Linked DNA regions of Homo sapiens: region 2 is linked to region 1. Evidence: fine-mapped expression QTL. A gene starts in region 1. The other region holds a variant in brackets. All regions are shown on one strand. Distances are from middle to middle.

Evidence for each region. PIP is the estimated chance that this variant, and not a neighbour inherited with it, causes the effect.
Region 2: its variant is the best candidate, but not a certain one, in a credible set for the expression of RPF2 in esophagus mucosa (GTEx, PIP 0.52).

The regions. Positions count from the first base shown.
Region 1 is chr6:110,980,840-110,983,757 of GRCh38, forward strand. It overlaps RPF2 (ribosome production factor 2 homolog), which reads left to right and starts at 1,199. Exons shown (of 10, transcript NM_032194.3): 1 at 1,199-1,290. The coding sequence starts at 1,268.
Region 2 is chr6:111,019,198-111,022,115 of GRCh38, forward strand. All of the region lies in intron 8 of RPF2 (ribosome production factor 2 homolog), which reads left to right. Among named protein-coding and RNA genes, the nearest start is that of RPF2, 39 kb to the left of the region's middle. The variant G/A (reference allele first, on the strand shown) is at 1,698.

The DNA.
Region 1 (2,918 bases):
AGCAAGACTATGTCTAAAATAAAAAAAGTACCTAGGTTGATAAATGGATAAACAAAATGTGGTATATCCATACAAAGGAATATTATTCAGTCCTAACAAAATGGAAGTACTGATCCACGCTACATGTATGAACCTCAAAAAGATAGTGAAAGAAGTCAAACACAAAAGGCCATACGTTGCACGAAACCATTTATATATGTTCAGAATAGGCAAATCCATTGAACATAAAGTAGATTATTGGTTGCCAAGGGCTGGCAGGAGGGGGAAGTGGGGCATGGACTGCTACTGGGTGTGTGTGTCAGGGGGGTTCTTTTTGAGGTGATTAAATATTCTGGAATTAGTGGTGATATTTGCACATCTTTGTGAATACACCAAAAATCACTGAATTGTACACTGTAAAGGGGTACATTTTATGGTATGTGAAGTATATGGTAACTTAAAAACTGGGGAAAAATCACGAACAGCAGTACATTTTCTGCGCATCTTTTATGTACTAGGCAACTGTGGTAGTCATAAATTCTGTCACACAGATCGCATAGTTGTCAATAGTGCCCCTTTCACATCAATGTTTTTAGTGCTTATGTGAGTACCTACCGTGCAATCAATCAACCTTTCTAGCATCCTGGGATTCCTTGAAGAATAAAATCTGGTTTCTGAATACCTGACTCCAGGTATGCACACTAGCGCGTACATCAAACTGCGAGGGTCTATGTTATTTTATTTTATTTTTATTTTATTTTTGAGACGAAGTCTCGCTCTGTCACCCAGGCTGGAGTGCAGTGGCGCGATCTCCGCTCACTGCAACCTCCGCCTCCCGGGTTCAAGCAGTTCTCCCTGCCTCAGCCTCCCGAGTAGCTGGGGTTAGAGGCGCCCGCCACCACGCCCGGCTAATTTTTGTATTTTTAGTAGAGACGGGGTTTCGCCATGTTGGCCAGGCTGGTCTCGAACTCCTGTTATCAGGTAATCCGCCCGCCTGGGCCTCCCAAAATCCTGGGATTACAGGCGTGAGCCACCACGCCCGGCCAGTGTTACTTAAAAGTATTACCTCGCACCTGTAACTCCAGGAAAGAGCCGGGGCAAAAATCCGTAACCAAGACAACAGGGCGCGATTCCAATCAAGATGGCCGCCAGCGCCTCTAGACGCCCTCTACGAGGCCGTCCCCGGAAGTGGCGTTACGCGCAGCTTCCGGTTCCGCCTGTTCCGGCGCACGTAATCGCCGAGGGCACGTGCATGCCCCCTGGTTAAGAGTTGCAGGTAGCGGTAGCGATGGACACTCTGGATCGAGTAGTGTAAGTGCGCTGGGTCTCAGCCCCGGGGAGCGTTGGGGTGAAAGGGTCCCGTGATGAGGGTGGTACTGTCTCGGCCTCTCACTCTTCCTGGTTACCCCTCTAATTACCTGGGTGGGGGCCGATCGATCACCAGCCCGGGTCCTCCTCAGCGCGAGCTGCTTGCCAGGAGACAGTGGGGAAGCTCTCAAGTGGGAGCCGTGGGATGGGAGGGATGTGGGATTGAAGCGTTGGCCGCTTTTATCCTAGCCAGTTGAAAAACGTCTGACTTCCGAAGTATGAGACAGATGGTATAGTGGGGTTAGGAGCACAGCCCTCGGAATCCGACAGATCTGAGTGACAGTCTGGCGCGTCCACTTAAAGCTTTGTGACTTTGGGTCATTAAATATCTCTAAATCTTAGCTTATTCTGTAAAATAGCGCTCACCATAGTCATACTTCATAGAGCTGTGAGGGTTAGTTTCGAGAATGTATGTAGAGCCTTTGCTGCAGCACGTAGAAATGTTCATTAGTTTTTTCTTTTCCTTCCAACTTTGTACACTCCTCTGAGTTATCCTTGAATGATACCTGTTTTAAATTTGTTCAAGAATATTTGGGCTAAACAGCCCTGCTGTTACTTGCTGTGATTTTCTTGCTATTTACCTAAGTTAACATGTATCCAAAACGACAGTTTTAGTCATTCAGAGATTTTGCACACCTGCTATGCCTCTAGCTGTTTGGACTACAAAGAGTAGTTTACTAGGTATTGGGACTAGTTCACACGTTAATTGGGAGCAGGCAGCTAATAAAACATGTTAATTGCTATTTGCATTTGTTGCTGTTTAATGAGATACAAAAGATAGAATAATTTGTATCTTTATCAACCAGTAAATGATCAGAAGCTTTATATGTGACATTATATCTGGAGGAGTATTTTAAAAATCTACATGGGAAACTTAAGTGTATGTATGGTCTCTTTTTCTTCCCAAAGTGTCCATGGGACTGGACGAGGGAGGGTCATAATTATTTGGGAGGAAGAATTCTTTCAGTAGATGGCAGAGAACTGTCTGAAAAGCAAGGTGCTCATTGTAGAGGAAGCAGAGGTGAAGCCCCTCTTTTGAACAGAAGTGTGTAAAAACATGCCACTCCTACTGTCACATCATAAAGTCAGAATAATGAATTTATTTTCCCTTCATATTTTACAGGGTAATTGGTCTAGACGAATTTTTAAATCTAGCTTTAAAAAATTTGTTTTTTTTTGAGACAGGGTATCACTCTGTCACCCAGGCTGGAGTGCAGTAGCCCCATCACAGCTCACTGCAGCCTCGACCTCCCTGGGATCAAGCAGTCCTCCTACCTCAGCCTGCTGAGTAGCTGGGACTATAGGCGCACACCACCACAGCTAATTTTTGTATTTTTTGTAGAGACAGGGTTTTGCATTGTTGCCCAGGCTGGTCTCGAACTTCTGGGCTCAGTGATCCATCCACCTTGGCCTCCTAGAGTGTTTTTATTACAGGCTGTGGGCCACCTCCCAGCCCTAGCTCATTTTAAAAATTGGCCTGTTTACTTGCTGTGTGATCTTGGGCACATTACCTGTCTGTTCAATTGCCTCATCTGTAAAGTGAAGATAAGAATTGTAACTCGCGCGTGGAG
Region 2 (2,918 bases), 38 kb after region 1:
AGAAACCCTGTCTCTATTAAAAAATACAAAAATTAGCTGGGTATGGTGGCGCACGCCTGTAATCCCAGCTACTTGGGAGGCTGTGGCATGAGAATTGCTTGAGCCTGGGCCACACGCCTATAATCCCGGCTACTCAGGCGGCTATGGCACAAGAATTGCTTCAGCTTGGGAGGCAGAGGTTGCAATGAGCTGAGATTGTGCCACTGCACTCCAGCCTAGGTGGCAGAGTGAGACTGTCTGAAAAAAACAAAACAAAATTAAACTTATGTTGGCTGGACACCTGTAATCCTAGCACATGGGAGGCTGAGGCGGGTGGATCACCTGAGGTCAGTAGTTCCAGACCAGCCTGGCCAACATGGCATAACACCGTCGCTACTAAAAATACAAAAATTGGTCAGGCATGGTGGTAGGCGCCTGTAATCCTAGCTACTCGGGAGGCTGAGGCTGGAGAATTGCTTGAACCCGGGAGACAGAGGTTGCAGTGAGCCGAGCACTCCAGCCTGGGCAACAAGAGTGAAACTCCATCTCAGACATAAAGTAATAAAATAAAATAAAAATTGTATAAAATTACCTTCAGGCTATGTATATAAACTGTATATGAAACATAAATGGATTTTGTGTTTAGACTTGGATCTCATCCCCAAGATATCTCATTATACGTATGCAAGTATTTCAAACTCTGAAAAAAACCAGAAATCTGGAACACCTTTCTTTTCTTTCTTTTGTTTTTTTTTTGAGACGGAGTCTCGCTATGTTGCCCAGGCTGGAGTGCAGTGACGCAATCTCAGCTCACTTCAGCCTCTGCCTCCCGGGTTCATGCCATTCTCCTGCCTCAGCCTCCCAAGTAGCTGGAACTACTGGCACCCGCCACCACGCCCGGCTAATTTTATTTTTGTATTTTTAGTAGAGACAGGGTTTCACCATGTTAGTCAGGATGGTCTCAATCTCCTGACCTCGTGATCTACCTGCCTTGGCCTCTCAAAGTGCTGAGATTACAGGCATGAGCCACCGCGCCTGACCTGGAACACTTCTTTTTTTGAGGCAGGATCTTGCTGTTGCCCAGGCTGGAGTACAGTGGCATCATCTCAGCTCACTGCAACCTCTGCCTCCCGCATTCAAGCGATTCTCCTGCCTCGGGTGGGTATGTATGCCCTCTGTGTTAAACATAGAGGGGATACAAGGGAGATAAAAATATAACGGTAAAAAATCATTGACAGTAAGAAATGAGTGGTAACAGTAGCCTAAAACTCTTCTGTGTTGAACGGTTTCGCAGAAAGTATTCACTTGTATTTAGTGAAAAGGGTTTATTTGTAAAGAAAGATACAGAGAAAATAAAACAAAATAGAGAATTATCAAGTCAGACTTTAGAGCAAGAATAAACTGGCCCAGCGTGGTGGCTCATGCCTGTAATCCAGTACTTTGGGAGGCCAAGATGGGTGGATCACCTGAGGTCAGGAGTTTGAGACCAGCCTGGCCAACATGGTGAAACCCCGTCTCTACTAAAAATATAAAAATTAGCCGGGCAACATGGTGTGCACCTGTAATCCCAGCTACTCAGGAGGCTGATGCAGGAGAACCCGGGAGGCAGAGGTTGCAGTGAGCCAAGATCGCACCACTGCACTCCAGCCTGGGTGACAGCGAGACTCCATTTCAAAAAAAGAGAAAAAAAAGAATAAACTAGCAGTAAGGCCGGGCAC[G/A]GTGGCTCATCCCTGTAATCCCAGCAGCCCTTTGGGAGACTGAGGTGGGCAGATCACGAGGTCAGGAGATCGAGACCATCCTGGCTAACACGGTGAAACATCATCTATACTAAAAATACAAAAAATTAGCTGGACATGGTGGCGCATGCCTGTAATCCCAGCTATTCAGGGGGCCAAGGCAGGAGAATTGCTTGAACCACGGAGTCGGAGATTGCAGCGAGCCTAGATTGTGCCACAGCACTCCGGCCTGGTGACAGAGCAAGACTCTGTCTCAAAAAAATAAAAATAAAAACAAAAATAAAAAACTAGCAGTGTAACTATAATACATAGATCCACCAAAAATCTGATTGCTAGAATCACCTTTACACTAGCACGACATCTTTCATAATGAAAAAAAGTTTGAAATTTTAAAATCAGAGACCCTAGTATGTAATTTTGATCACTAGATGTTCCATATGTGCCTTGTAATACTTGTTAGCTATTAATTTGAAATAAAAAATGGACACTGTGATTGAGAGTGAGCTGCTACTTGAAAGAATCACTAAACATGTGGATCAGCTTAGCTTCCAGAGGCTGTGCCACACTTGGGGAGCATTGAGGATGGGAGGAAGGGGTGGTCCAGGGATTCAGCATCACCTCTGAGCCTACTGACCTGGCTCTGAGCTGGGCTCAGCCACGTGACATGGGCAGGTCACCACTTCTCAGGGTCTTTGTTTCTTCCTCTGTAAACTATAGCAATACCATTTAGATAATTCTGAGGTCCCCCTAAGATTGACAGTACTGCTTTATAAGAGTAAAGGGGTACTCATAGATGGGCATATACCAGAAAGTATGTCTGACTTAACTTGGCTCCCCAGGCATTCTTTGGGCTAGCTATACTGTGGAACCCTTTCCCTCGCTCTTACTGCAAATTAGCCCTTATGCAATTTGAAAATGGTAATATTTAATATTCACACACTTTATTTGTGAAGATAAATGAGGTTTATAAAATGGTTTTGAGCTTTTTGGATGAAAGGAACTCTAAACAGGAAATTATATTAATATAACCTTTAACATGATCTTTTGGGTGAATAAATCATAGTGTTATTGACCACTGTTCCTATACATCCTATAGTAATTATTCCTTGTATGTGAGTGACTATTTATATCCGTTGGGAAATTTTATTCACTATGGAGTCAGAGCCATTAATATGAAACAAAATCGTTAGTAATGCCACATGT